7 separate regions of the Homo sapiens genome follow, and regions 2, 3, 4, 5, 6 and 7 are each linked to region 1. The links come from fine-mapping of genetic effects on gene expression. A gene starts in region 1. Each other region holds a variant in brackets. All regions are shown on one strand. Distances are between the middles of the regions.

Evidence for each region. PIP is the estimated chance that this variant, and not a neighbour inherited with it, causes the effect.
Region 2: its variant is fine-mapped to the expression of IL17RA in prefrontal cortex (BrainSeq, PIP 0.95).
Region 3: its variant is fine-mapped to the expression of IL17RA in whole blood (INTERVAL, PIP above 0.99).
Region 4: its variant is fine-mapped to the expression of IL17RA in anterior cingulate cortex (GTEx, PIP 0.98).
Region 5: its variant is fine-mapped to the expression of IL17RA in cerebellum (GTEx, PIP above 0.99).
Region 6: its variant is fine-mapped to the expression of IL17RA in tibial artery (GTEx, PIP above 0.99).
Region 7: its variant is fine-mapped to the expression of IL17RA in whole blood (INTERVAL, PIP above 0.99). The same link has a PIP of 0.9 or more in esophagus mucosa.

The regions. Positions count from the first base shown.
Region 1 is chr22:17,082,352-17,086,702 of GRCh38, forward strand. IL17RA (interleukin 17 receptor A) reads left to right here and starts at 2,649. Exons shown (of 13, transcript NM_014339.7): 1 at 2,649-2,878. The coding sequence starts at 2,741. RefSeq lists an enhancer at 1,709-1,878 and silencers at 2,432-2,651, 2,672-2,791, 3,042-3,141, 3,182-3,431.
Region 2 is chr22:17,040,982-17,045,332 of GRCh38, forward strand. It overlaps CECR7 (cat eye syndrome chromosome region, candidate 7), which reads left to right. Exons shown (of 4, transcript NR_152826.1): 2 at 3,892-4,019. Among named protein-coding and RNA genes, the nearest start is that of CECR7, 6.6 kb to the left of the region's middle. The variant A/AT (reference allele first, on the strand shown) is at 1,835.
Region 3 is chr22:17,108,938-17,113,288 of GRCh38, forward strand. It overlaps IL17RA (interleukin 17 receptor A), which reads left to right. Exons shown (of 13, transcript NM_014339.7): 13 at 1-4,351. The coding sequence ends at 883. Among named protein-coding and RNA genes, the nearest start is that of TMEM121B, 10 kb to the right of the region's middle. The variant G/T (reference allele first, on the strand shown) is at 2,146.
Region 4 is chr22:17,034,223-17,038,573 of GRCh38, forward strand. CECR7 (cat eye syndrome chromosome region, candidate 7) reads left to right here and starts at 2,348. Exons shown (of 4, transcript NR_152826.1): 1 at 2,348-3,122. RefSeq lists a silencer at 1,887-1,996 and enhancers at 3,660-3,709, 3,720-3,879. The variant T/C (reference allele first, on the strand shown) is at 2,186.
Region 5 is chr22:17,056,404-17,060,754 of GRCh38, forward strand. CECR7 (cat eye syndrome chromosome region, candidate 7) reads left to right here. Exons shown (of 4, transcript NR_152826.1): 4 at 1,114-3,667. Among named protein-coding and RNA genes, the nearest start is that of CECR7, 22 kb to the left of the region's middle. RefSeq lists enhancers at 452-621, 1,626-2,126. The variant C/G (reference allele first, on the strand shown) is at 1,687.
Region 6 is chr22:17,167,124-17,171,474 of GRCh38, forward strand. No RefSeq gene overlaps it. Among named protein-coding and RNA genes, the nearest start is that of HDHD5-AS1, 9.9 kb to the left of the region's middle. RefSeq lists an enhancer at 4,042-4,351. The variant T/C (reference allele first, on the strand shown) is at 1,761.
Region 7 is chr22:17,103,848-17,107,847 of GRCh38, forward strand. It overlaps IL17RA (interleukin 17 receptor A), which reads left to right. Exons shown (of 13, transcript NM_014339.7): 9 at 879-963; 10 at 1,744-1,755; 11 at 2,006-2,107; 12 at 3,880-3,921. Among named protein-coding and RNA genes, the nearest start is that of TMEM121B, 16 kb to the right of the region's middle. RefSeq lists a silencer at 1,963-2,163 and enhancers at 2,933-3,152, 3,110-4,000. The variant C/G (reference allele first, on the strand shown) is at 1,846.

The DNA.
Region 1 (4,351 bases):
AAGTTGTCAGTTGCCAAATCAAAAATATTTGACTGGGCACAGTGGTGCAAACCTGTAATCCCAGCTACTTGGGAGGCTGAGATGAGAGGACCTCTTGAGCCCTGGAGTTTGAGTCTAGCCTGGGCCGTTTAGTGAGACCCTATTTAAAAAAAAAAAAAGGTGACAAGATGGCTATGTGATCTTTGCATATGACTGAAAACGGGTTCAAAGAATTGATGAGACAAATATAATTATTTATGTAAGCAATTTTTTAAGGCTTACATCTAAAATATTTTTAGCCTGGGGTGGTAGCTCGTGCCTGTAATCCTAGTACTTTGGGAAGCTGAGGCAGGAGGATGACTTGAGCCCAGGAATTCAAGACCAGCCTGGGTAACATAGTGAGACCCTGTCTCAATGTTTTAAAAAGAAGAAAAATGGTGGCTCACGCCTGTAATCCTAGCACTTTGGGAGGCCGAGGCGGGCGGATCATGAGGTCAGGAGATCAAGACCATCCTGGCTAACACGGTGAAACCCCGTCTCTACTAAAAATACAAAAAATTAGCCGGGCGTGGTGGCAGGTGCCTGTAGTCCCAGCTACTCGGGAGGCTGAGGCAGGAGAATGGACTGAACCCGGGAGGCGGAGCTTGCAGTGAGCCGAGATCACGCCACTGCACTCCGGCCTGGATGACAGAGCAAGACTCCATCTCAAAAAGAAAAAAAAAAAAAGAAGAAAAATAAAATATTTCTTAAATGCTGAATGTTGCTTTGTTCTATGAATAAGCAATATTTGTTCACAGATACATCAACTAATTAGGAATAAAATGAATTTCAAGTAATTCATGTTTAATTACTTATTAACATGTATTATATTTACATTATTTTTTATCAATTATGTACTAATAATGGCAATGATGAAATGAAGATCTCAGTGTCTTGCACTGGGCAGAGGCCTTTCTCATTCTCTGCCACTTGGGCCCCAGCATGGCTTCCCTAAGAGCTAGGAGCTCAGAGGGAGGGGCTGGGCAAGACAGAAGTCAGGATCTTTTTGTAACTTAATCTTGTAAGTGACATCCCATCATTTTTGTCTTCTTCTATTCATATTCTATTGTTAGAACCAAGCCTCTGGGTCCATCCCACACTCCGCGAGGAGGATTCAGAAGGTCGTGACTCCCAGGGGGTGGGATCCTAGAACACATCTTAGAAGCTGCCTACGACAACCGCTGATTTTTAAGTAACAGTTACATCCTCTACATCTATTTAGACTTAGGATGGAGAATTTTAGATGTCATCTTTAAAATGCATGAGAGGATGCAGTTTTCCAAAATTCTTTTAGAAACAGACAATTTGAAGGCCACTGAGCTTCAGGCTTCATTCAGCTGGGTCGTGTCTGCGGGCGGGGCTCATAGAGATGTCGCTGGGGGTCAGCGGGTGCTTCGGGCAGCGAAAAAACCCACCTCTCGAGGGCAGTGGAAAATACAGGGAAAAGCCACTTGAGTGTAGACTCCGTGCGTGTCAAGGCCAGGCAGAGGCGCACTTGATAGGCAAGGAAAAGCGGACGGTGGTGGTCTTGGGAGGAAGAGAGGAGAGGCGAATGGGCAGGAGCGTGTGGATGCACTAGGGCAGGACGGGCTCGAAGCAGGAACCTAGGATAGAGGCAGCGCGGGCCGGCTTGGGAGGGTCCTCCAGGGTCCGGAGAGGAGAGGACGCAGGCTGCACGCGTGCTAAGAAGGAGACTCATGAAATGTGTAATTCGCTGGCGACAGCTTCCGCGGCCGTGGAGTGAGCCTCTGGGAAGTAACGACTCTCTTAGGTGCGGCTGGGACACAGTCTCACAGACCAGGTAAGTTGCCTGCCCTCCAGGAACTCAAGTGTCCCCGAGTCCGAGCCAGGAGGCTGGAAGTGACTGCTGTCCCATCCTCCCTGGAGCCCGGAGCTGTCCTTGTCTTGAGAAAGAGAAAGCAAAGCCAAGGAAAGCAGAGCGAGCAGAACCAGGCAAAGGGGTGGGGACAATAAAATGGGATATGGCCCGCGCTTCCATCTACTCAGGAGGCAGAGGCAGGAGGATCGCTTGAGCCCGGGAGGCCGAAGCTGCAGTGAGCTGCGGTTGCACCACTGCACTCCAGCCTGGGAGACAGAGGGAGACCCTGTCTAAAAATAAAGTAAAATAAAAAACAAAAATAAAAGGGACAGAGACTAAGAAAACGGACTTCCTGAAATCCCAAGTTGGGATTTCACGTCCAGTGACCCACAAGAGAAGCAAGAAGTCTGAACAGGGCCAAGAATCAAGTGAGTGGGGGCGGAGGATTAAAATCGACAGTTGCTGCGGCACGGCCAGGGTGGAGGGTGCATGTGGGGCAGGCGAGGCTCCAGCTGGAGTTGACGCTAGCCCGACGCGGGTGCAACTGGAGGCGCGACGGGCCAGGCCCAGGAGCAGCGGGAGGAGCGCACCTGGGGCGCGCGGGCGGAGGAGGGCCGGGGAGGGACGCCGGAAGGACTGGGTAGGGACGCCCGGAGGACTGAGCGTAGGGCCGAGAGGAGGGGCGCAAGGAGGAACGGGGGGAGGGCCCTGTCTCACCCTAAACCCCTCCCCGTCCCAGACTAAACTCCTCCCCTCGGCCCGGCCCGCCCCTGGGCCCGGGCTGGAAGCCGGAAGCGAGCAAAGTGGAGCCGACTCGAACTCCACCGCGGAAAAGAAAGCCTCAGAACGTTCGTTCGCTGCGTCCCCAGCCGGGGCCGAGCCCTCCGCGACGCCAGCCGGGCCATGGGGGCCGCACGCAGCCCGCCGTCCGCTGTCCCGGGGCCCCTGCTGGGGCTGCTCCTGCTGCTCCTGGGCGTGCTGGCCCCGGGTGGCGCCTCCCTGCGACTCCTGGACCACCGGGCGCTGGTCTGCTCCCAGCCGGTGAGACTCGACGTGGGGAGCGGTAGCCGCCAGGATGCTGCGGACGCGGGGCAAGGTCGCGGAGGGCCGGACGGTCGGGACTACGCGCCCGGGCTGGGGAGGCAGGAAGTCCGCGCCGCGGGCTTAGAGGGGCTCAGAGCCTTGGGCACAGATATCGCGGCGCCTGGGGAGGACCCTCGGAGCGGTGGGAGTTGCGGTGTGGAATACGGGGGGGGTGGGTGGCACATCGCGCGGCGCGTGTTGCACAACCTGGCCCGCCGTCGTGACTGGAGGCGGGAGTGACACCTCCGCCCGGGCCGCGGAGTTCGGGGAAGGAGGGCGCGGCGCTGGGCCAGGCCGGAGGGGCGGCCAGGGCTGATAGAAAGGGGCTGTGGAGAAGGGGCCCGGGGAGGAGCCAGGACGGGTCTGGACCCAGCTCCACGCCTTGCGCCCCTCACGTACCCCGGCGGGGCACGGTCGGCCCTCGGGAGGCCCATCGCGCCCTCGGGAGCTTCCCTCAAGCCGTGCCCTTCATGCCGCCGACGGAGCCGGGCGAGCCCACGTCGTCCGTGCGGAAGGTGGAGTCCCTCACCCGCGGCCCCCAGAGGGACCCCGCTGTCGTAGAGCCACGCGGGGGCCGGAGCGCTGAGACGCGGCACCATGTTTCGGGGAGAGCTCTGCCGAGGGCGGCTGAGGGCCACCTCCCCAGAGGCGCGAAGCCCTGAGGATGGGCAGATGGTTCTTAAGACGGCGCCCTTCCCGCCACTCCCACCCCCGACTACCACCACCTGGGTCTGGGAACCCGGTGAGAGCGCAGTCGGAGGGTCGAACGTTTGTAGCTGTCAAGTCGTAGCCCCGCTGCGCCCACAGGAAGTGACCCACCCGCCTGCCGGGTAGTGGCCTTTCTGTGAGCCAGGACCATCTTAAGGAAAAAAACAAAAAAAGAGCAAAACGCCGTGCCCCTCCACAATATACTCTCCTCTTCCCCGCATCCCCGAGGGGATCTTTCCTCCCCTCCACCTCCACCTCCACCTCCACCGCTGACCCCAAGGAATAATGCTCAGTATCTGAGTCAGAGGATGTAAAACAAAGGGATATTTCTCCTTATGTAGTTTTATGGAGGATTTACCGAAAGAAGGTGGAGGGTGAGTGACTATGTCGCAGAAAAAAAAAAAAAGATGTTTTTATCGTGAATGATGTTGAGAAATGTCCTGTGACTTCCACTATTGGGCAAAGCAGGTCCCTCTGCCCTGCTAGTCCCTCCTGCAGGCTGTGTATGAAGCGTTCTGATATGGAGGGTTGGTGCGCCTGGGTTGACAGCCATTGGTCAGGTGCCTGCAGAGTACAGGGCGCCATACTGGGAACTGGAACTATAAATAAATACTCTGGGGACCCTAATATCCAGAGACCTAACCCATCTACGGGAGGAACAAGGCTTGAAGTTAGGGAACTGTCTAGCAAAGCTGCTTGCACAACTGCTAAGTGTACGGAATT
Region 2 (4,351 bases), 41 kb before region 1:
TTTTCTTTTTTTTTTTTTTCTTTTTGAGACAGGGTATCACTCTGTCACCCAGGCTGGAGGGCAGTGGTGCGATTTCTGCTCACTGCAACCTCCCTCTGACTCCCAGGTTCAAGCAATTCTCCTGCCTCAGCCTCCCAAGTAGCTGGGATTACAGGTGCCTGCCACCATGCCCAGCTAATTTTTGTATTTTTAATAGAGACGGGGTTTCACCATGTTGGCCAGGCTGGTCCCGAACTCCCAACCTCAAGTGATCTGCCTGCCTCGGCCTCCCAAAGTGCTGGGATTACAGGTGTGAGCCACCATACCTGGTCTAATTTTTCAAACATTGGAAAAATTTGTGATTTTTTAAAAAGTTTTCTTCTGTTAATTCATTTCATATGACTGGATATATGCCTTATATAATTTCTGTCTTTTAAAGTTGATTAATTCTTCTCCTCTGGCCTAATATATGGTCCATCCTTGAGAATGTTCCATGTGCACTTGAGAAAAATGTGTGTTCTTCTGCCATTGGATGGAGTGTTCTATATATGTCTGCTAAGTCCAATTGGTTTATGATGTTGTTCAAGTTCTTTATTTTCTTGGGGATCTTCAGTCTAGTTTTTCTACTCACTGTTAAAAGTGGCATATTAGAGCCGGGCTCAGTGGCTCACACCTGTAATCCTAGCGCTTTGGGAGGCCAAGGTGGGTGGATCACCTGATATCAGGAGTTCAAGACCAGCCTGGCCAACAAGGCAAAACTCTATCTCTACTAAAAATACAAAAAAAATAGCCAGACATGGTGGCAGGCACCTGTAATCCCAGCTACTTAGGAGGCTGAGGCAGGAGAATCACTTGAACCTGGGAGGCAGAGGTTGCAGTGAGCCAAGATGACACCATCGCACTCCAGCCTGGATGACAGAGCAAGACTTTGTCTCAAAAAAAAAAAAAAAAAGTGCCGTATTAAAGTCTCCAACTATTTTGTAGAACTGTATATTTCTTCCTGAAATTCTGTCAATGTTTGCTTCATGTATTTTGGAGCTCTGAAGTTTATTGCATATATGTTTATGATTATTATATTTCCTTGATGAACTGACCCTTCTATTAATATATAATATCCTTCTTTATCTTTTGCAATTGTTTTTGACGTAAAGTTTATTTTGTCTGATATTAGTATAACAACCCAAGCTCTCTTTTGGTTACTATTTGTGGGGAATATATTTTGCAACCTCTAACTTTCAACCTATTCATGTCTTTAAATCTAAAATGAGGCTCTTGTAGACAGTGCATATTTGGATCATGTTTTATTATTCATTTAGCCAATTCCTGCCTTTGGACTGGAGAGTTTACTCCACTTAACTATTGATAAGAAAGGACCTCTGCCATTTTGTTATTTGTCTTTCGTATGGCTTAATATTTTCTGGCCCTCATTTCCTTTATAACTGCCTTCTTTTATGTTTAGTTTCTTTTTTTTCCCCAAGACCAAGTCTCACTCTGTCACCCAGGCTAGAGTGCAGTGGCACGATCCCAGCTCACTGCAATCTCCGCCTCCTGCGTTCAAGTGATTCTCCTGCCTCAGCCTCCCAAGTAGCTGGGATTACAGACGCACAGTACCATACCCAGCTAATTTTATGTATTTAGTAGAAACAGGGTTTCACCTGTTAGCCAGGCTGATCTCGAACTCTCAACCTCTGGTGATCTGCCCGCCTCGGCCTCCCAAAGTGCTAGGATTACAGGCGTGAGCCACTGCAACTGGCCTATGTTTAGTATTCTGTTTTTTTGTTTGTTTGTTTTTTGTAGTGACATATTTTGTTCCCCTCTCATTTCCTTTTGTTTATATTCTATAAATATTTTCTTC[A/AT]TAGTTACTATGAATATTACATACAACATCCTAAGGTTGTAACAATCTAATTTGAATTAATACCTACTTAACTTCAATTGCATACAAAAACTTATGGTGGCTTATACCTATAATCCCAGCACTTTGGGAGGCCAAGGTGGGCGAATCACCTGAGGTCAAGGGCTCAAGACCAGCCTGGCCAACATGGTGAAACCCCATTGCTATTAAAAATACAAAAATTAGCCAGGCGTGGTGGCATGCGCCTGTAATCCCCGCTACTCAGGAGGCTGGGGCAGGAGAATCACTTGAAACCAGGATTGAACCCAGGATTGAACCCAGGTTTCAGTGAACCAAGATCTCACCACTGCACTCCAGCCTGGGTGACAGAGTGAGACTCTGTCTCAAAAAACAACAAACAAACAAAAAAAAACTCTACTCATGTACAGTCTTCCATTTATATTGTTGATGTAATCTTGTGCCTACCAACTTAGTCCACAAAGGCACTCACGTTGATCTAGTATCACAAGTGGAAAACAGTATTACTTGCCATAAACAGAAGGCAATTATAACTATAGGTTTTTTTAAAAAAACAAACAATTTTCTCATATTCTACCTAAATCCTATTCCCATTGAAAGCTCTGATCCTGAAGTGTATCTTCCTCTTGGGACTTCCAGAGAGTTCAAAGCATGTCAGCACTAAACTAAGAGTCAACCTGATATACTCAGAATAATTGGAAGTGAATCCAAAAAGGGAGGTGATTCAATGTTTTTAAAATGATTTTTCAGATAGCTCTTAAAACCATTTCATGTTCCACAAGAGATATTGCTTATGGTTCAAGTGAATAGGTTGTGAAGCAAGAATTAAATTTAAATACCAACCCTCTCAGTGAGCAGCTGAGTGACTTTGAGGAAGTGAATGTGCCTCTCTGAGCATGAAGTTTTTCTTATTTAAAATGGGCTACAAAAAAGTGCCAGCTTCACACAAAAACATGTATGCAAATGTACATAGCAGCTTTACTCAAAATAACCAAAACCTGGAGACAACCCAGGTTTTGAAAGGCCTAGAGATGCCTTTCAGTAGGTAAATGGTTAAACAAAAACTGAGGTACACCCACAACATGGAATACTGTTCTGCAATAAAAAGGATCAAACCATTGATGCACACAACTTGGATGAGTCTCTAGAGAATTATGCTAAAAAAAACCAACAATCCCAAACAGTTGTACACTATTAAATTATATTTATATAACACGCTTGAAACAACAAAATTATAAAAATAGAGAACAGAGTAGTTGTTAGCAAGGGGTTAGGGATGGGGAGAGGAGAGGAAAAGAGAAGAAAAAGGAGGTGGATATGGTTATAAAAGAGCAACATCAGAGATCTTCCTGATGTGCTGGTGAATGCACAAACCTATATATGTGATAAAACTGCATAAAAATAAATACACCCATACACACACACAGGTACAAGTGAAACGGGAGATCTGAAGATTGGTGGATTGTATCAACATCAGGATTCTGGCTGAGATACTGAACTATAGTTTGCAAGATGTTGCCACTATGGAAAACTACTAAAGAGTACAGGGGCATCAATCTGTATTATTTTTTATAACTGCATGCAAGTCCACAATTATCTTAAAATGAAAAGTTAACTTTAAAAATACCACCCTCATAGGCTCTCTGTGAGGATCAAATGAGATAGTATTTAGGGAAGAAAATTCACTCAGCAAATGTTTATTGACCCCTCTCATCTGTCCAGACACTGTGTGAATGCTGAGCTTACAGCAGGGAACAAAGTTCACACTATAATAGAAATTTTATTCTAGTATAGTGTCACATAAAAGCGAATTGATATTTTTTAATTTGTCATTGAAATTGGTATAATCACGACCACTCATAGAACAGTAGCATGCATCGTGTGCCTACGTGTAATGAAAATAGACTCAGAGAGATGGCAAAATTTGCCCAGGTACCAGGTAGAACCAGAGGCAGAATTGAAACCCAGATTGGAACCCGAGGTTGTGGCTCATCATCTCTAAATTCACTGCCTTCAACAAAGAAGTTCTCTCCCCTTTGTAGGGTAACCCAGAGAACACAGCCGAAGTGGAATGTGGGGACGTCTGCGACACCGGGGACAGAGCAACTGTGGATGAAGAGGGCTACATCTGGTTCCTGGGGAGGAGTCATGACACTATCAATGCCTCTGGGTAGGTGTGACTGATGCCAGGCTGGCTGTTGTCATCCTCATATGCCTCCTGGGATCTTGCTTGCCCAGACAGTCTTTCATGCATTGGTGACAGGACCCTCAGCCCAATTTGAATAGAGCCATGTCTACAATGCCCTGATCCCAGGTTTTGGTGCACCTCCCTAACCCCTGCATACAGAAGAATCAATCAAAATGAAATTCAAGAGTGTCTTGAAGACATAATAAGACACTGTGCAATTTAGAGAAGGGCCTTGGAATGAGACTGAGAAGGAAGACTCTGTTTTGGTCCCCATAGGTTCAGGGAGCTTATTTCATGTGTGTGCTCCTCTAATG
Region 3 (4,351 bases), 27 kb after region 1:
GTTCCGGGACTGGCAGGTCCGCTGTCCCGACTGGTTCGAATGTGAGAACCTCTACTCAGCAGATGACCAGGATGCCCCGTCCCTGGACGAAGAGGTGTTTGAGGAGCCACTGCTGCCTCCGGGAACCGGCATCGTGAAGCGGGCGCCCCTGGTGCGCGAGCCTGGCTCCCAGGCCTGCCTGGCCATAGACCCGCTGGTCGGGGAGGAAGGAGGAGCAGCAGTGGCAAAGCTGGAACCTCACCTGCAGCCCCGGGGTCAGCCAGCGCCGCAGCCCCTCCACACCCTGGTGCTCGCCGCAGAGGAGGGGGCCCTGGTGGCCGCGGTGGAGCCTGGGCCCCTGGCTGACGGTGCCGCAGTCCGGCTGGCACTGGCGGGGGAGGGCGAGGCCTGCCCGCTGCTGGGCAGCCCGGGCGCTGGGCGAAATAGCGTCCTCTTCCTCCCCGTGGACCCCGAGGACTCGCCCCTTGGCAGCAGCACCCCCATGGCGTCTCCTGACCTCCTTCCAGAGGACGTGAGGGAGCACCTCGAAGGCTTGATGCTCTCGCTCTTCGAGCAGAGTCTGAGCTGCCAGGCCCAGGGGGGCTGCAGTAGACCCGCCATGGTCCTCACAGACCCACACACGCCCTACGAGGAGGAGCAGCGGCAGTCAGTGCAGTCTGACCAGGGCTACATCTCCAGGAGCTCCCCGCAGCCCCCCGAGGGACTCACGGAAATGGAGGAAGAGGAGGAAGAGGAGCAGGACCCAGGGAAGCCGGCCCTGCCACTCTCTCCCGAGGACCTGGAGAGCCTGAGGAGCCTCCAGCGGCAGCTGCTTTTCCGCCAGCTGCAGAAGAACTCGGGCTGGGACACGATGGGGTCAGAGTCAGAGGGGCCCAGTGCATGAGGGCGGCTCCCCAGGGACCGCCCAGATCCCAGCTTTGAGAGAGGAGTGTGTGTGCACGTATTCATCTGTGTGTACATGTCTGCATGTGTATATGTTCGTGTGTGAAATGTAGGCTTTAAAATGTAAATGTCTGGATTTTAATCCCAGGCATCCCTCCTAACTTTTCTTTGTGCAGCGGTCTGGTTATCGTCTATCCCCAGGGGAATCCACACAGCCCGCTCCCAGGAGCTAATGGTAGAGCGTCCTTGAGGCTCCATTATTCGTTCATTCAGCATTTATTGTGCACCTACTATGTGGCGGGCATTTGGGATACCAAGATAAATTGCATGCGGCATGGCCCCAGCCATGAAGGAACTTAACCGCTAGTGCCGAGGACACGTTAAACGAACAGGATGGGCCGGGCACGGTGGCTCACGCCTGTAATCCCAGCACACTGGGAGGCCGAGGCAGGTGGATCACTCTGAGGTCAGGAGTTTGAGCCAGCCTGGCCAACATGGTGAAACCCCATCTCCACTAAAAATAGAAAAATTAGCCGGGCATGGTGACACATGCCTGTAGTCCTAGCTACTTGGGAGGCTGAGGCAGGAGAATTGCTTGAATCTGGGAGGCAGAGGTTGCAGTGAGCCGAGATTGTGCCATTGCACTGCAGCCTGGATGACAGAGCGAGACTCTATCTCAAAAAAAAAAAAAAAAAAAGATGGTCACGCGGGATGTAAACGCTGAATGGGCCAGGTGCAGTGGCTCATGCTTGTAATCCCAGCACTTTGGGAAGGCGAGGCAGGTGGATTGCTTGAGCTCAGGAGTTCAAGACCAGCCTGGGCGACATAGTGAGACCTCATCTCTACCTAAATTTTTTTTTAGTCAGTCATGGTGGCACATGCCTGTAGTCCCAGCTACTCGGGAGGCTGATGCCAGATGATCACTTGAGCCCAGGAGGTAGAGGCTGCAGTGAGCTATAATGGTACCATTGCAATCCAGCCTGGGCAGCAGAGTGAGACCCTGTCTCAAAAAAAATAAAAAAGTAGAAAGATGGAGTGGAAGCCTGCCCAGGGTTGTGAGCATGCACGGGAAAGGCACCCAGGTCAGGGGGGATCCCCGAGGAGATGCCTGAGCTGAAGGATTGTGGTTGGGGAAAGCGTAGTCCCAGCAAGGAAGCAGTTTGTGGGTAAGTGCTGGGAGGTGAGTGGAGTGAGCTTGTCAGGGAGCTGCTGGTGGAGCCTGGAGGGGAAGGAGGGAGGCAGTGAGAGAGATCGGGGTGGGGG[G/T]TGGGGGGATGTCGCCAGAGCTCAGGGGTGGGGACAGCCTTGTGCGCATCAGTCCTGAGGCCTGGGGCACCTTTCGTCTGATGAGCCTCTGCATGGAGAGAGGCTGAGGGCTAAACACAGCTGGATGTCACCTGAGTTCATTTATAGGAAGAGAGAAATGTCGAGGTGAAACGTAAAAGCATCTGGCAGGAAGGTGAGTCTGAAGCCCTGCACCCGCGTTCCGACTATCAGTGGGGAGCTGTTAGCACGTAGGATTCTTCAGAGCAGCTGGGCTGGAGCTCCCCTGAGCTCAGGAAGCCCCAGGGTGCAAGGGCAAGGAAATGAGGGGTGGTGGGTCAGTGAAGATCTGGGCAGACCTTGTGTGGGGAAGGGGTGCTGCTGTGACTTCAGGGTCTGAGGTCCAAAGACAGCATTTGAAAAGAGGCTCTGAAGCCAGTGTTTGAAGAATTTGTTCCTGAAGTACCTCCTGGGGGTAGGCTAGAGGCTTCTGGCTTCAGGGTCCTGAAGAACACATTGAGGTGCCGTCTGACACTGGAATAGGGTGCCCTTCATTCCTATGCCTGAGTCCTTAACTATATTTCCAACCTCCAGTGAGGAGGAGAAGATTCGGAAATGTGACAGGAGAGCAAACAGGACAGTTTGCATGTGTGTGTGCGCACACATACATGTGCGTGAAAGATTATCAATAAAAGTGCATAAATTTGTTGATCTGGTAAGAGTTTCTAGCAGGAAGGTCGAGCCACTTACTGTAGGTCAAGAAGTTGCTAGTTGCGGAGTTTTTTCTTGCAGTTAGACTTTACCTAGTGGTAGCAGGGCCACCAAAGCTCTGTGTCCCAGATGGTGTATGGCCCATAATCCACCCAACAGCAGCAAAGGACCAGGCAAAGGAGAACAGGAGCAGAAGCCTCCCAGCCACTAGCCTTTTGGGCTCAGTCTCTCCAATAATCCTGGAGAGGGGCTTCGTTGGGTCTGGACACCTACCATGCATTCTGTGACCTTTCCCTAGCTTCCAATAAATAACTGTTTGACGCCCAGAGTACAGGATACCACAATGCACTCTTCCTGCGTAGAGCACATGTTCCCATCTGCTCCCATTCCTCAGGAACCTTGAATTCTAGCTCTGCTGGCCTTTGAGCCCATGCCAGTAAATGTCCTGATGGGCATTGCCTACTATCTCCAGGGCAGCTGCCTTTGTCCTCCTAACAGCTTTATTGGAGTACAGTTCACTTACCATACAATCCACAATTGACCCTGCACAATTTGATGCCGGTTTAGTATAGTCACAGTTCAGCAGCCATCAGCACAGTCAGTCTTAGAGTTTACTACCCCCAAAAGAAATCCAGCCCCCCTTAGTCACCACCCCAACCTCCCCATCCCTAGGCACCCCTAGGCTACTTTGATCTCTGTAGACTTGCCTCTTCTGGACATGACATAGAGAAAGGAGTCATAAATTCTCCAAGGTGTCTGTTTCTTCTTTAATGTCATTCCCTGTTTCTCCTCACATTCCCTCCCCATTTCCTGGGCCCAGTCTCACACTGGTCCTTGCTTACCCTAAATGCTATTAATTCCATCACTCTGAGTATGGTGTTTGCTGTCCGCTGAATGCCAAGAGCTTCAAGAGTGTGTGTAAATAAAGCCACACCTTTATTTTTGTATTATTCTGAACCATGGCTAATAAATTGTTTCACCAAGAAATGTCTCTCTAAGAACAGGTGCCCTCCACGCTGTGCCCCTCCCACCTCTTCAGCTCGTCTCCTGAGTGTGCAGAGGTGGTTCCGGTTGGGAAAGAAGCAGCGGAGCATCTAACCATGCCTGTGTCCAGGCCGATTATGCACGCAGCCACCAACAAGCTCCCAACTCCCGCGTAGAGTTTCATGACTTTTTCCTGCCTACTATCTTGATCCTAGTTTTTTTTTTGTTTTTTTTTTTTTTAAGGAATAATTACTTTGATTCAAAACCAGTTTCTCTTTTCTGCATAGGAAGGTCCTTGAAGGTGTTTAGGGTCTAAAAAGGGTGGTGTTCGGTCTCTGAAACATCCATTCAGCAGTTTGAGCTGGGATCTCTGAATGCAAGGGTATGATGGATATACTTCTTTCTTGCTTTTGTTGTGTTTTGGTTTTTTGTTTGTTTTTAAGTCAGGGTCTCTCTGTCACCAGGCTGTATTACAGTGGTGCAATCATGGCTCACTGCAGCCTCGACCTCCCAG
Region 4 (4,351 bases), 48 kb before region 1:
CAGTAAAATTTAGAGAGTGCAACAGGTGAAGAGAGACGTGACTGACTCCCTCCTCTTTAGCTTCCCTTGACAGCTTCCTCTCAGACTGCCCCAGCTGATATCCTGCCCAGAAACACACATGCTTGCAAATCCAGCCACTAACCATTGACCTGTCTTGGACTCAAGTGTGAAGAGCCAGCCAAGGAATGCAGACCCGGAAGCCTAGGGTGTGTGTGTGTATTTGTAGTCAAGTGAAAATCCCACCCAAGCTCCAGACAGACCCTGGCGGCCCATTCTGCAGATGTTGGTGAGGTTGGTATTTCTGCGGAGGTGTCAGCAAAGGTTGAATGTGCCAGGCATGAGGCAAAGGCCAAGGTTTAGGGGGACTTCTACACACACACCTGCCCCCTTGCCTTGTCCAGCCAGAAAGCAGAGAGCAGTGGCATCTGCCCAGCACAGAGGCAGATGGGTGGATCCACTCATCGGAGGATAGAGCAGGGAAGACAGGACAGGAGAAATCCAAGAGGGCTTCTCAGGGGAGGAGGCGTGTAGTTTGGCTTAGATGCAGAGGCTAGACAGGGGCCTGAGCAGATGAGTAGGGGACTGGGCATTTGAAGCCAAGAGTCTTGCACCTCCCTACCCCTTTCTTTGCACCCTCATACTTGAGCATTTATTAGCAACTTGTGCTAACCACTGAGCTAAGCTGACCTCCAAGTAATTAGAAAGCTTAAGTAAACCAACATCTGTAGATGAGAAAGGTGACTGAGGACCTACTGTTACAAAGGCAAGGTAATTTGAGGCTGCAATGAGCTATGAGCAACTGTGTTCCAGCCTGGGAGACAGAATGTAAAAAAAATAGTAATAACAGAAAGTATGCATCAATCTCAATTTTTTTAAAAAAAGGCAGATGATTTTACAGTTGTTTTATCAAAACTCAAAGAACAGGAAAGCCCAAATTATTTCAACAAAGTCAGACCTTTTAAACAGATGATAGCTGCCCAAGTCATTTTTATGAAACTTCTTTATATCAAAACGTAAGTCTAAAAAGAGAAAAGTGTTGACCTTGATACAGGCTGTGTTAGGCAGAGATTTCAAGGAAATCCTCTCTGAAGAGGTGACATTTGATCTGAGACCTGAAGCACCGGAAAGAGGCAGCCAAGCCAGGAAGAGGCAGGAATGGGAAGGTCTAGGGAAAGACTGGTCCTGGCAGGCAGAACTGCGGTGGCAAAGGCCCAGCGGTGATCAGGAGCTTGGCATTTGGAAAAATAAAGAGTGTGTGTGACTGGACAGCGTGATCAAGTGGGCAGAGGAGGAGATGGTGATAGGGTGTGCACTGGTCAGGCCACCTAGCTCCTGGAGCCCACAGTGAGAAGCATGGGCTTGACTCTGAGGGCAAAGGAGAGCCACAGAGAGTTTGGGTAAAGGGGAAAGTTGGCATTTAATTTTATAGCTTTTTGAAGTTTGTTTTGTTTTCTTAGAAACAGGGTCTCAGTCTGTTACCCAAACTGGAGTGCAGCTCAAAATATTTTCCAATTTATCTTGTGATTTTTTTTTGATCCAATGATTTAGAGGTGGGTTGTTAAATTTTCACATATTTTCAGATGTCCAATATTTCTTACTGTTGTTAGTTTCTAATTCTGTTTCAGTCAGATAACTTATTTGTTTTCCCTGTCTCTCCTGTCTTCTGATCCTGTTTTTCCATTGACTACCATTTTTAAAATAAACTTATTTCAGTGTGTCATTTACAATCCTATTTTAATTTTTTGCTCTATCTCTGACGTGGTTGTTCCAGGGATTATAATGTGCTTTTAAATTTTTCCAACGAATGAAGAACGAAGTGATCGACTTCTTGCCTCTGCCGGGGCTCTGAAGCGCTGCCCCGAGGCGGTGGACGGAGGGTGCCAGGCGTGACATCAAGAGCTCTGCAGCCAGGGCCTGGGGCAACCTCCCGCTCCACCTCCCGGGAGCCTCGCAGCCAGCATCCCCAGCGGCTCGTGCTCCCCGGCCAGGCGGGACCTCAGCGCTGTGGCGGCCGCAGACCTCACCTGGGCAGGCCCCGGGCCGCATGCGGACCCTAGAGGCAACCAGCGGGCTGGATCCGCACAGCGGCCCTGGGGAATGGATCGTGTACAGGGGACAAAGCTACACATGTCTTTCATTTTGGAGGGGGGAAAAAAGAAAAAACGGAAATGAAAGATTGAAAATG[T/C]GTGGGCTCTCCGTCCTTTCCTTTGCTCCTGCGCGCTCTCTGGGGTGGGGGGCTCAGCGAGCTTCAAGAGGTGGCCGAGATTCCCCCACCCCGCCCCCAGATCCCCGGGAGAGGTCAGCACGGCCCCTCCCGTGGGTGTCACAGAGACCGATACCGGTCCCGCTCCCCGGGAAGGAGTGGGTCTGGGTCCAGTCCGCAGGACCCCCTCGCGGATGCTGACGCAGAATGGAGTTGAGGTGGGGGCAGCGCTGGACCCTAGGGCCCCTGCCTGCCTCCTGGGGAGCCCGGTGACCCAGGCAGCCCTGGTGAGGCCGCAGGAGTCTGGGCCCTAGCGACGCCCCCGGGCTCCCACAGGACGAATGTAGACGGTGAGGCCAAGGACGCCCTGCTGCCCTCGGGACTGTCCCTCCAGCCCCCAGCTTTCCGTGGTTATTGGGCCCCCTCTGCAGAGGGGCAGGGGAGCCCACCCTGGATCCTGAGGCGCCGAGCTTGAGGGACCCCAGAGCTCCAGCCAGGCCGCTTTCTTTGCGGATGGTGAAGCTGAGGTCCCGAGGAGGGCAGGGGCAGGTCCCGGGCGCTCCTCAGGCAAAGGGAGCCGATTTAGGGGCTGGGGTCACAGGAGGCGCTTCTGCGACCTCTAGGGCCCTAGAGCCCGGGAGGATGAGAGACTGGGGGCCTTTCGTCCACCCCTGGGGCTGGGCAGACGCTCAGCCTGTGCAACCCGAAGCTGCTTCTGCCCAGTCCCAGCCGCGGCCCCTTTAAGAGGGGGTGGTGCTTCAGCCTGGCGCCAGGGACGCTGCCAGCATGCAGGCCCCGACGGAAGCCGAGACTGCGCTTCGTGCGAGGCCCGGGCAGCATCGGCGGCGTGGTCAGAGCGAGTCTCGGAGAAGATGTGGTGGCTTCCGTTTGTTGGTGGAGGAGGTGGCAGGCCTCGGCGGTAAGTGGAGGGGGATGAACCCCACCTGGAACCCTCTGGGTCTCCCTACTCCTTCTCGGCCGCTCCCTGCTTTCGGGCCCTGACTTCTAAGTGGGCATCTGGGCCCGAGTCGTCAGCGTCGGGGCGGTTGTGGGATCCTGGCCTCGGCAGCGTCCACACCCCCGCCGGGAAGGCTATGCCCCTGTCCGACCCGCGTCCAGCCTATAGGAGCGCCCTGGCCCAGAGGCGGCGGTGAAGCGCTGGACTGGGTCCCTCCGAGCCCCACGGGCCTCTGAGCTGGGGCCTAGGGTTATTTTTTATGCCTCGGGACCTTTAGAAAGAGACCTCGCTAGAGCAGGGGACATCTGTAGTTTCAGTTCTTTGAGGAGTTTCCAGCTATTTAGCTGTTTTCCATGGTGTGTACCCTAATTTTCATTTCCACCTACAGTGTATGAGTTCCCCTTTCTCCAAAACCAAACCCCCATTCCAATTTGTTTTTGTTTTTTTGAGACGGAGTCTCGCTCTGTCTCCAAGGCTGGAGGGCAGTGGCGCCATCTCGGCTCACTGCAACCTCCACCTCCCGGTTTCAAGCAATTCTCCTGTCTCAGCCTCCTGTGTAGCTGGGACTACAGGCGCCCGCCACCACGCCTGGCTAATTTTTGTATTTTTATTTTTAGTAGAGACGGGGTTTCACGATATTTGTCAGGCTGGTCTGAAACTCGTGACCTCAGGTGATCCGCCCGCCTCGGCCTCCCAAAGTGCTGGGATTACAGGCGTGAGCCACGGCTCCCAGCCCCTCTTATTTTGAAAAATTTTTTCTAGGAATATTCAATAACTGTGAGATTATCTGCGTGTGGTTTTGAATTACAGTATTCTAATGAATAGTTAATTTTGAGGACCTTATCTCTTATCTGTTGTTCGATTTTATATCTGTGCAGAATTGTCCGTTCAGGTTCTTTGCGAAATATTAGATTGGATTCTTTTTCTACTTTGTAGTGTTTTTTGTGTACACGTTAGTTGACAACTCCTCGTGAATTACATGATTGCCTGAAATTTTTGCGTAATCTATAGGATGCTTTTTTATTTGGAAAGTAGTTTTCTTTGCTATGCAGAAACTTTTCACGTTGATGTAGTCCCATATGTTGTTTTTTTTTTTTTGCGTTTTATGCGTGTCATTGTGGTCACCCATATTAGAAAATATGCATCAGTAACAAAGCATTTAATTGTCAATGAGGTTTTTCTTCACAATT
Region 5 (4,351 bases), 26 kb before region 1:
CGGACGTGCATTTTGGGAGATCCAACTTTAGGATATGGGCTCACTGTCTCAGCACATGCAGACCAGGCCTGAACTCTATTCAAGAAAGCTGCCTGCCAGTTTATAGCAGGGGTTAGCAAACCTTTTCCATGAAGAGCCAGTTAGGAAATGTTTGAGGCTTTGCAGAACATGTGGTCTCTTGCAACTACTCAACTCACTAAAGCAACAATGGACAACACATCCGTGAAGAAGCATGGCCGTGTTCTGGTAAAACAAAACTTGGCTGCAGTTTGCCCATGCCCAGCCTAGAGTTTGTAGCCTCTTCCCAGAGAGAGGGAATCTGACAGATTCCCAAATCTGTCAGAGACTAGGAAGTCTCCTTCAGAAGGACACCCCTCCAAGCCTGAGGATCCATCCACCCACAGGAGGCCTGGCACAACTCATTCCCCACTCAGCTTGGTGCAAGCTAACCCTATCAGGCCCTGCCACTGTTATCCTTGCTGACCACCCCCAGTGTCCTCTCAAGTGGAGGCTGCCTGCTTCTCATGTCCTCCGCCACAGGGTCAGGCACTGCACCCACCCCTTCCAGCCCCACAGGAGCCCCTCTCCCCAGCCCTGGCCTGCTGCCACCCGACCCCCTCACCAGGGAGCCCCTGCACATCCAGTTGAGCCCAGATGGCATTCCTTTAGGAAACCTCCTCGACACTCCGAAGTCCAGATCGCAGGCCCCACCTGGAATGCTCTCCTTGCAGCCTGTTCGAAGACTCATGAGACCGTGCTGCACACTGGACTTCAACCATGAGCTTCACCGTCTGTCTCTTCCTTCACTACCTTCGCTCTGCACTAGGCCATAAGCTCTGTAGGAGAAGGAACTCATCACAGTGCCTGCCCCAGACAGGTTGTTCATAAGCACGTATTGAAATATAGAATTCCCAGGCACCTCCAACAGAGAGACTGGACCTTGTGAGACCCAACAAGAAGCCAGTATTTCAGAACTGATGAAAAATAGCAAGGATCTAGATTAGGGGGTATAGTGGGAATGAAATGGGGGACTGGGTGATGCCCCATATTTGTCAACGACTCATAGTCTTTCTCCAGAGATGTCTTCCTCCCCTGTGTTCTTTGTCTCATCAGCTGCCACCAGCACTCACTCCAGCCACTAAAGCCAGAAAGTTGAAAGACCTCTGCCCTCATCCGGCCCAGCCCCCATCCAGCCAAAGACCTGTCATTTCAACCTCACGCCCACCCCGCTTTCCACTCCCACTGCTCCTGCCTTAGTTCAGACCACCACCGTCGCTCTCCTACCCAGTTCAAGCCAAGCTGACCTGGCCAGTGGCCTTCAGGCCTTCCCTTCTCCATCCTGCCATGTCCATCCTCCACAGGCAGAACAGGAAGCTGTCATGTAAAAGTGCAGGTCTGCTTTGGTCCTTCTCCTAAACCCTTCAGTGGCTTCCCGGTTCCCTTTGGGTCCTGGTACAGATTCCTTAGCATGGCCAGGGAGGACAGCCCTCCATGATCCTCCCCTCCCTGAGATGTTCCTCCTGCCCCAGCACCCTGTGTTTGAGCCCAAGCCCGCCCTGTGGTGTCACGGGAGGCCCAGCTCCTCTGCCTGGGGTGCCTTGCCTGGCCTAGGAACTGGGAAAACTTACCTGCTTCCAAGACTCAGCTCTAGCACCTCTTCCTGCTGGGTGTTTTCCGATGCCCCCC[C/G]TCTCGCCACCTCATGGGGACCCCACAGTCCCCTGAAGAGCCTTCTGCCCCAGTGCCTCACCCCACTCTTTAGACCTGTTTCTGTTTCCATGGCTGCCTTGCCTTCTTAGACCACGGGCTCCTGCAGAGCGGGACCCCATATCTCAGTCGGCTTTGCATTCCCAGTGCCTGGCCGAAACTGAGGCTGGAATGGTCTCCTATTCCATAAGCTCTCAATAACCCTTGAAAAATGACTGGAATCCTGGACAGCGCCAAGGCAGCAACTGGGATGGGAGAGTGATCTGCTGCCCTCTCCTGGCAATGTGAGGAATTGTCCTAAGCACAGACAACTCCCTCCCTGCCTTGCACAAGTGCAGGATGGGGGAAACTGGAAAAGGAGCTGATGGAGGATTGGGGAGGTGGATGCTGTCTAAGGAGACAAACTGAATTGAGGGGTTGCTGGGACTCGGCCGGCTCACATGCTATTCCCATGTCATGGGCCCAGGGGCCAAGTCAGTGCTTCCAAAGGAGGGTGCATCCTGAGAGAGGCTCTGGCTCCCCCAACAAAACCCTAAACTCTTGAAGGACATCTTCCTTCTCAGTATACCCTATTGCTGTGTTGTTGTAACTATCACTGTAACTTTTATTCACTTCAGTGGGCGATCACTGAGTTTTTCCTCCATTGTTGTAAAACATGTGTTTTGCTCTTGTGTGTAAAATGACTGTGAATTTAGCCACTGCCTTCTCCTGATTTTAACTCAGCTTTCTACTGCTAGGAGGTTATCTCTGTTCTGGGTTTCTCAGCTTTCTATCAAAACCCAAATACTGTCATTCCTCGGTATCCGTAGGGGATTGGTTCCAGGAACCTCCCTTGAAGATACCAACATTGCAGGTGCCCAAGCCCCTGATAGAGAACAGCGCAGCATTTGCAGACAACCTATGTACACACTGCATGCACTTTCAATCAGCTCTAGATTACTTCTGATACCTAATTCAATGTAAATGCTGTGTCAGTAGTTGTCTAGGGAATAATGACAAGAAGAAAATTTTGTACATGTTCAGTACGTAGGAAAAAGAAAGAGAGATCAGACTGTCACTGTGTCTATGTAGAAAGGGAAGACATAAGAGATTCCATTTTGAAAAAGACCTGTACTTTAAACAGTTGCTTTGCTGAGATGTTGTTAATTTGTAGCTTTGCCCCAGCCACTTTGCCTTAGCCACTTTGACCCAACCTGGAGCTCACAAAAATATGTGTTGTATAAAATCAAGGTTTAAGGGATCTAGGGCTGTGCAGGATATGCCTTGTTAACAAAATGTTTACAAGCAGTATACTTGGTAAAGGTCATCGCCATTCTCTAGTCTCAATAAAACAGGAGCACAGTGCACTGCGGAAAGCCGCAGGGACCTCTGCCCTTGAAAGTGGGGTATTGTCCAAGGTTTCTCCCCATGTGATAGTCTGAAATATGGCCTCGTGGGATGAGAAAGACCTGACTGTGCCCCAGCCCGACACCCATAAAGGGTCTGTGCTGAGGTGGATTAGTAAAAGAGGAAAGCCTCTTGCAGTTGAGATAGAGGAAGGCCACTGTCTCCTGCCTGCCCCTGGGAACTGAATGTCTCGGTATAAAACCCGATTGTACATTTGTTCAATTCTGAGATAGGAGAAAAACCGCCCTATGGTGGGAGGCGAGACATGTTTGCAGCAATGCTGCCTTGTTATTCTTTACTCCGCTGAGATGTTTGGGTGGAGAGAAACATAAATCTGGCCTACATGCACATCCGGGCATAGTACCTTCCCTTGAACTTAATCATGACACAGATTCTTTTGCTCACATGTTTTTTGCTGACCTTCTCCTTATTATCACCCTGCTGTCCTACTACATTCCTTTTTGCTGAAATAATGAAAATAATAGTCAATAAAAACTGAGGGAACTCAAAGGCCGGTGCCAGTGCAGGTCCTTGGTGTGCTGAATACTGGTCCCCTGGACCCACTGTTGTTTCTCTATACTTTGTCCCTGTGTCTTATTTCTTTTCTCAGTCCCTCATCCCACCCGACTAGAAATACCCACAGGTATTTCTAGGGAGGGGCAGACCACCCCTTCACAGTAAAGCCACAATATTTTTCAAATATTTTTACCCCAGGTGGTTGAATCCCCAGTTGAATCCAGAACCCACAGATGTGAAATCCATGGGTGAGGAGGGCCAGCTGTGCCTGTTAGCATCCCCTGACCCCCACGGTGCCCACTGCTTCAATGGGTCAGGTGATGTCATGCACCCCTCCTGGCAAAGAGAAGCATTACCTCAGCTCCTCTTGGGGCTGCAGGTCTAACCGTCTGCATCTTAACGTTTGCAAAGGTTGCCTAACCCCTAATATAGGAAATAGATTTGGGGAAGGAGCTTGAGTCTGTAGCTGGAGATTTGTGATTGATGTTCACAGAGATAGTTAAAGTCTTGGAGTGGCTAAGATAGCCACCTGCAGAGAAAAATCACCTGTCATTCACCATTGAATCCTCCATCTCTATTGCACAGGGCATTGTATAAACATCAGGTGTCTATGGAACAAATGCAAAGAGAGTACACAAAAGAAGCAAAAGGGACTGTCTTTGCACGATGCAGAAAATTAGACCTGCATGGCACGTTTAGCCCTAAATTTAGGAATCTACCCCACTAGACAGGAAATATCTTTTCA
Region 6 (4,351 bases), 85 kb after region 1:
TCCTGACCCATGTATAGAAGAAAGTAACTCAGGGAGGCCGGGCACGGTGGCTCACGCCTGTAATCCCAGCACTTTGGGAGGCCGAGGCGGGCAGATCACAAGGTCAGGAGATCGAGACCATCCTGGCTAACACGGTGAAACCCCGTCTCTACTAAAAATACAAAAAATTAGCCGGGCGTGGTGGCAGGCACCTGTAGTCCCAACTACTCGGGAGGCTGAGGCAGGAGAATGGTGTGAACCCGGGAGGTGGAGCTTGCAGTGAGCCGAGGTCGCGCCACTGCACTCCAGCCTGGGCAACAGAGTGAGACTCCGTCTCAACAGAAAAAAAAAAAGGAAAAAGTAACTCAGGGAGCTTCCTGGCCAAACAGACACCGCTCCTCAGCCCAGTGCTCCTGATGGGGTGCTCCCATCCCCAGTCCTGCCCAGCTTCTGCCTTTGCCATGTCCCCCTGTTCCCTTCCTGTGTCAGTACCATCCTCTCCCCGCCCATCGTCACTTGCTCCAGGGAACTCTGGCCCAAAAGAGGCCAGCTGGCCCAAAGCGCCTGAAATGCTGGCAAGGGACAGAGCCCTTGGCACGGTCCCTGTGGAGGGTCAGGCTGGGTCATGGCTCCAAGTGCAGGCAGAGGAGAGAGCACTAGAGATTCAGGCTCTGAGTTGCCCCCAGGGCCAGTTGCGCCAGGCTGGCTCCTTCTGCCCAGTCCACTGTATCCACGTTGAAGACAGGCTGGTTTCTTGTGGGAAAGGGGCAATAAAAAGGAGAGGAGAGGAGGGAATAGGAGAAAGGAGAAGCTAGAAAGAAAGAAAGAAAAGGAAAGGCAAGAGAAGCTTGATCAAGGAAATTTTAAAACCCAACAGAGATGAAGAGGAGGGAGGAAGGAAACATCAGAAACATCAGTAGACAGAGTTCTTTTTCTTTTCTTTTTCTTTCTTTCTTTTTTTTTTTTTTTAGAGACTGGGTCTCCTTCTGTTGCCCAGGCTGGAGTGCAGTCACTCAGTCTCGACTCACTGCAGCCCCGACCTCCTGGGCTCAAGCAATCCTCCTACCTCAGCCTCCCCACCACACCCAGCTAAATTTTGTATTTTTTGGCAGATATGGGGTTTCGACGTGTTGCCCAAGCTGGTCTCAAACTCCTGAGCACAAGCAATCCACCCGCCTTGGCTTCCCAAAGTGCTGGGATTACAAGAGTATGAACCACTGCACCCAGTCTGACAGAGTTCTTTTTTTGTTTGTTTTGTGTTTTGTTTTGTTCTGTTTTTTTTTTGAGACGGAGTCTCACTCTGTTGCCCAGGCTGGAGTGCAATGGCACAATCTCGCCTCAGAGCAACCTCCGCCTCCCGGGTTCAAGTGATTCTCCCCCTTCAGCCTCTGGAGTAGCTGGGATTACAGTCTCCCACCATCATGCCTGGCTAATTTTTGTAGAGATGGGGTTTCACCAAGTTGGCCAAGCTGGTCTTGAACTCCTAACCTCAGGTGATCCACCTGCTTTGGCCTCCCAAACTGCTGGGATTACAGGCTGGAGCCAGCGTGCCTGGCCCCTGACAGAGTTCTAAGCATGTGGGAAGCATGCGAAGTCCACGCAAGTCCCTGGGCTGGGCTGCTAGCCTCCCTGCTTGGTACCTGGTGGCTGTTCCCCAGGAGGGCAGATAGACTCCCTGCTCTCTGCCCTCTTGTCATTGTGAGCTCCCTGGCCCATCCCTAGGCTGCACTGCACTTCCCAGTCAGGGCAGTGCCTGGACCCTCCAAATACAGCTCCTGCCA[T/C]GGCCTCTTCCGAATCCTAGGGGCAAACGGGGCATTGATGCACTTAGCTCAGCCCTCACACTCTCCTGCCACCGACCCTGAGAAGGGGCAGCTGGCACCAGAGAGTCTCTGAGCTGAACCTGGGCTCATTCTGCAAGATCCTTCCTAGGGAGACTGGCATGCAGGCAAGGGGATCAGCTCCTGAAGGCCCCCAGACTCCCATAGGAGGGGAGGGAACTCCAGGGATAGGCAGAGGGAAGGCTCCTGGGGGAGTCAGTTGCCCTCCAGAGCCCAGGCTTACGGGTGGGCTGAGCAGATGGAGCCACTGCCTGATGCTGTCTCCCCATGCCCTGACTCCAAGTGACCCCACTGGCTGCTGCCCCTGTGGCTCCAGCCATGGATGGGTCCCAGCCTTTGACTGGCTGCACTTCATTGTATTTGATGGTTACTTTTTGGAGTCAACTTGACTGGATTGAGGGACACCTAGATAGCTGGTAAAGCAGTGTCTTGTGAGGCTGCTTCCAGAGGAGACTGGCGTATGAGTTGGTAGGCTGAGTGGGGAAGACGCCCTGTCAATATGGGAGGGTACCATCCAATCAGCTGGGAGCCTCGGTAGGACAAAAAGGCAGAGGAAGGGCAAATTTGCTGTCTCTCTCCTGGAGCTGGGACAGCCTTCTTCTCCTGCCCTTGGACATCAGAAGTCTAAGGGTCTTGACCTTTAGATGCTGGGACTTGCACCAGCAGCCCCCCAGGTTCTCAGGCCTTCAGTCTCAGACTGAGTCACACCTTCAGCTCCCCTGGTTCAGAGGCTTTCAGATTTGAACTGAGCCATGCTCCCAGCAGCCCCAGGTCTCCAGGCGGCCTGTCGTAGGACTTCTCAGGCCTCCATAATCACGTGGAGCCAATTCACCTAATAAATCCCTTCTCATCTATCTGTCTGTCTCCTATCTCTATCTATCTATCTATCTATCTATCTATCTATCTATCTATCTATCTATCTATCTACCTACCTACCTACCTGCATGCTATAGGTTCTGTCTCTCTGGAGAACCCTAATACGGTTGGGATGCAAATTGGAAGGCACACCACCTGTTAAGTAGTCCTGCTGAAAGAATCAATCCTAAATCTTATCAAGACTTGAGATCCAGGCGGGGCGCAGTGGCTCAGGCCTGTAATCCCGGCACTTTGGGAGGCTGAGGCAGGCAGATCACTTGAGGTCAGGAGTTCAAGACCAGCCTGGACAACATGGTGAGACCCCGTCTCTACTAAAATACAAAAATTCGCTGGGCACGTTGGCTCATGCCTATAATCCCAGCACTTTGGGAGGTGGCTGGATCACCTGAGGTCAGGAGTTCGAGACCAGCCTGGCCTACTAAAAATACAAAAATTAGCCGGGCGTGGTGGTGTGCATTTGTAATCCCAGCTACTTGGGAGGCTGAGGCAGGAGAATTGCTTGAACCTGGAAGGCAGAGGTTGCAGTGAGCCAAGATGGTGCCATTGCACTCCAGCCTGGGTGACAAGAGCAAAGACTTCATCTCAAAAAAATAAAAAATAAAAATAAAAAAATTAGGGAGGGCGTGGTGGCTCACGCCTGTAATCCCAGCACTTTGGGAGGCCGAGGTGGGCAGATCATGAGGTCAGGAGTTCAAGACCAGCCTAGTCAACATGGTGAAACCCCGTCCCTACTAAAAATACAAAAATTAGCCAGGTGTGGTGGCGCACACCTGTAATCCCAGCTACTCGGGGGGCTGAGGCAGGATAATTGCTTGAACCCGGGAGGCAGGGGTTGCAGTGAGCCGAGATCGCACCATTGCACTCCATCTGTGGGCGACAGAGCAAGACTCCATCTCGAAAAAAATAATAATACAAAATTAGCCGGGCATGGTGGTGTGCGCCTGTGGTCCAGATGAGGCAGGAGAATAGCCTGAACCCAGGAGGTGGAGGCTGCAGTGAGTTGAGATTGTGCCACTGCACTCCAGTCTGGGGAACAGAGTGAGACCCTGTCTCAAAAAAAAAAAAAAAGAGTTCAGAACAGTGTGGATACTGTGCTGCCTTTTATATGAGAGCAGGAAAAAATATATATATTTGCTTTTGTTTATTTTGCATAAAGAAACACAAGAAACTAAGCCTGGTGGGAGAATGGGTGGGATGGGAAAGAGGACAGTGGAAAACAGAGGTGGATAGAAGCCTTTCGAATGTGTTCCTTTTCATACTTTTTGAATTTTTGAAATGTGATTGTATATAGATTCATTTTAATTTTAAATGTAATTAAAATTTAAAATTCATTACGGCACTACTCTCTCATCCTGTACTATGGGCTCTACCCTTTTTTGTTTGTTTGTTTTTGTTTTGTTTTGAAGAGACAGAGTCTCGCTGTTTTCCCCAGGCTGGTCTAGAACTCCTGGGCTCTAGCGCCCCGCCTGGGCCTCCCAGAATGCGGGACTACAGGCGCCGCCACCACCCGGCGTCTACTCTAAATGCATAGAGGCCAGGATGACCCAAGGTCACCAGCGGCCGATGCTGCCTGGCAGGGGCTTGAGGCCGGGAGGGGACCCTGCGGACAGGCGAGACCATGTGTGATCTGTGGGAAGCAACTAAACCGGCGTATTCGC
Region 7 (4,000 bases), 21 kb after region 1:
GGAACGTGCACAGGTGGAGAGAGTGGTGTGGCTGGGAGTGGGGAGCGTGCACAGGTGGAGAGAGTGGTGTGGCTGAGAGTGGGGAGCGTGCACAGGTGGAGAGTGTGGTGTGGCTGGGAGTGGGGAGCGTGCACAGGTGGAGAGAGTGGTGTGGCTGGGAGTGGGGAGCGTGCACAGGTGGAGAGTGTGGTGTGGCTGGGAGTGGGGAGCGTGCACAGGTGGGGAGAGTGGTGTGGCTGGGAGTGGGGAGCGTGCACAGGTGGAGAGGTGTGGCTGGGAGTGGGGAGCGTGCACAGGTGGAGAGAGTGGTGTGGCTGGGAGTGGGGAGCGTGCACAGGTGGAGAGAGTGGTGTGGCTGGGAGTGGGGAGCGTGCACAGGTGGAGAGTGTGGTGTGGCTGGGAGTGGGGAGCGTGCACAGGTGGAGAGTGTGGTGTGGCTGGAGTGGGGAGCGTGCACAGGTGGAGAGAGTGGTGTGGCTGGGAGTGGGGAGCGTGCACAGGTGGAGAGAGTGGTGTGGCTGGGAGTGGGGAGCGTGCACAGGTGGAGAGTGTGGTGTGGACGGGAGTGGGGAGCGTGCACAGTCTGGCATTCTTGCTGGTGGACAGGGGAAAGCTTGTCCTCTCTGTGGCACCAAGCACCACTACCAGTCAGGATTCCTTGCCTGGTAAGGCACTGCCCCTGCCTTTCTCCTGTCTGGTTCTCCCACCCTCACCTGGGCAGGGGTTCGCTGACCCGCCCTTGCTGGAGGGAGATGATGGTCACCTGGAGATCGTGGTGTAGCCAGCCAGGATCCCCTCCTCTCACATTGCCGCTGCTGGCTGGAAGGCATGGGCGCTCTACAGTTCTGGAGCCCTTTTCCTGCCCTCTCTGCCCGCAGATCCAGCCCTTCTTCAGCAGCTGCCTCAATGACTGCCTCAGACACTCCGCGACTGTTTCCTGCCCAGAAATGCCAGACACTCCAGGTAGGGGACATGCGGCTGTCCTAGGCCATACTGGGAGAACAAGTGGCTGAAGGCCCCCAGCCTGTGCTGCGTCCTTACCTGGTTCTGAGGGGTGATTAGGGAGGAGAGTTTAGTTTAACTTGGAGTCCTTCAGGCCTGAAGTGTGGAGTGGGGCTTTAGAGTGTCACTCCCTGGGGCTGGACTCCTGGCTGTCTTTCATTAGCTATGTAGCCTTAGGCAAATTACTTAATCTTTTTGATTCTCAACTTCCTTGACTGGAAAATGAGGTGGTTTTTATCCTAGAGCCCTAGTTCTGTGCCATGCACTGAGCGCAGTGCTCCAACATGCCGTCCATTTTTTCATCCTCACTCATTGTGAGTCACGGTACTATGCAGTAGAGGATCCCCCCACCCCAAACCCCAGGTTCCTGGATAAGGAAACTGAGGCACAGAGATGTTGAATAACTTGTCCAAGATCACACAGCAGGGACGCTGTTTTCAAAAGTCGCATGCCCTAATGCACGGGAGGCTGCAGCCACGTGCTCACCAGAAGGCAAGGCGCAGGCATGGAGCCAGGCTGGAAGGAGAACCCAGCCTCCCAAGGAGGAGGCAAGGTGTCTCTTCTTAGACCAGCAACTCAAGTGTCTCTTGTAGATGGTTTCATTAAGTTCAACCTGGATCTAGAGTGCCTGGTGCAGGGCCAACATCATTAAAGCCCTCAAGGGACGTCAGTTGTGTTTCTTGTGATGACTGGGAAGGGTTAAGAATGCTATTTTCCCTTTTTCCTCTGTTCTCATTGCAGAACCAATTCCGGGTAAGCTTGGATCTCTCTCCGACAGCACTGCAGCCCTCAGGGGACATTCCCCAGTGGCCACTTGAGAAGTCCCTGCCTCAGCCAGGCAGA[C/G]AAGGCTGAACCGAGGCCAGCCCGGGGTGGGGGGTGAGACCATGGTTTGTCGTGGTGGGGCCAGAGAGGACAGAGCCTGGGGCTGGGGAGCAGGGCTGGGGGCCTCAGGGTGGGCAGGGCAGGCCCCGCCGCATCACTCACGCTGTTCTGCTCACCGCAGACTACATGCCCCTGTGGGTGTACTGGTTCATCACGGGCATCTCCATCCTGCTGGTGGGCTCCGTCATCCTGCTCATCGTCTGCATGACCTGGAGGCTAGCTGGTAAGCGCTGGGGCTCTGGCTGTCCTGGAGTCAGGCTCTAATACCAGCACCACCACTCACTACCAAGGCAAATCGCTTTATTCTCAGAGCCTCAGCTTCTTGCTTGAGAACCACGTCATAAAGCTGTTGTAAGGACTGAGTGAAATAAGACACATGAATTCTTAGCACAGAACCTGGCATGTGCTATTTGCACAGTATCTGTTAGCCACGATTATATTTGTTGTTATCAAATGTAGTATTATTAAAATCAATAGTTTGGAAGGAGCCGGAGTAAAGTTTCCCTGTGTCAGGAATGATCATCCAGGCAGGTGGAGCAGCCTGAACAACCCCATCCTGCAGCCGCCAGACGTGGACGCCTGGGGTCAGGGAGAATAGTGAGGGTCAGCATCGGGTGATAGAGAAGGCTCCGGCTGCCCTGAGCCACAGGGGTGGACCCCAGCCCCACCTCATTAGCCTTGTAGTCACAGGCCAGTTACTTAATACACCATGGATTCACTTTTCTGTAAAATGTACTGATAATGCCTCCCTCTAAGGGTGTGACGAAGGTTAAATGAGTAGCTGAGGAAGGTGCTTGCTGGTGGGGATTAGTACATACCAGTGTCTTCTCCCACCTGCAGCCCTCTGCTGGCCAAGTCCTAAGCCGGGAGAACACAGGCCTTCCGGTTGGGGCTTCAGCCCTTGCCTGCCCCACCATGACCCTAGGCTGCTCCTTCCGTCATCTGGGAAGCTGTTTCCACCCTTCCCTAGGCTCGTCAGGATTAGGTGTTAATCATTATTAATTATTATGTGGTAGAAAGAAAACCAGCCAGGCATGGGAGGACCTATGGGAGGTTCCAATAACATTCAGTAGCATCTCGGCCAGTGCTCCACAGGCGGTGCAGCTCTCTAAAGGTTTGGGGCTGGGCGGCGGCGGCGCTTTTGGTTTCCTTTCTGCTGTTGCGCTTCTGTTTTCCGAAGTGTCCTGCACCACAGGGTGAAGGCAAGAGGAGCCTCGCTGTTATTTGGCTGTCTTGTGACAGTTCTGGGGAAGAGCTGAAAGGGTTAGGATTGAGATTAAGGTTCTAAGTCGTTTGCTCAGTCATCTGTGGATCTCAATCCTCCCAGCTGTCACTAAGGAGTTAACCCCCGCAGAGCAGTTTTTTCATCACATCTCTGAGGGGAACAATTGCTTAAGTATGTGGGTTCCCCTTCCTCACCTCAAAAATACCAGGAGGAAATGTTGCAAGCAGCCTGGTGGGGCTGCTTCTGGAAAGAAGTGTGGTAAGATGCATGTCTTCTGTAAAGACACTTCTGGGGAAGAGCTTTTCCTCATGTGGAGTCAGTTTGGGGTGGCCAAATTTCAGGGAGACAGGGCAGACCAGGACCGTAATGAGGAACCAGAATGGACACCACCCCCTGCCCCCCGGCACTGGGGGTCCCAGCTGGATCAGTGCTACAAAATAACTGTGATCCCAATTGATTATGTACAACGTGCCAGGCACGTCACATACACACACTCATTTAATACCCATTAAACAAGAGCAAATACAGACCCACCTCACAGAGGAAGAAGCTGCATTTCAGAGGCACTAGTAACTGCTCCAGGTCATAGTGCTCGTAGTGGCAGACCCAGGACTCATGCCTGTGCGACCACCTAGCACGGCCTCGCTGCTCAGTCTCGGGGCTGCCCCCTTACCCTTCACCCTTTGTCAGGGATGGGGCAGACACCCTGTGAGCTGGTTTCTATTTCTCTTCCCAAAGAACCACTCCAGTGTATTTCTTTTCCTTTCCAGGGCCTGGAAGTGAAAAATACAGTGATGACACCAAATACACCGGTCAGTATTTCCTGGTTTGCATGTTTGCTTATTTTTAAAGCAGTGGAGGGTTCTCCTGGGATAAGTGCGTGGGTCGCCT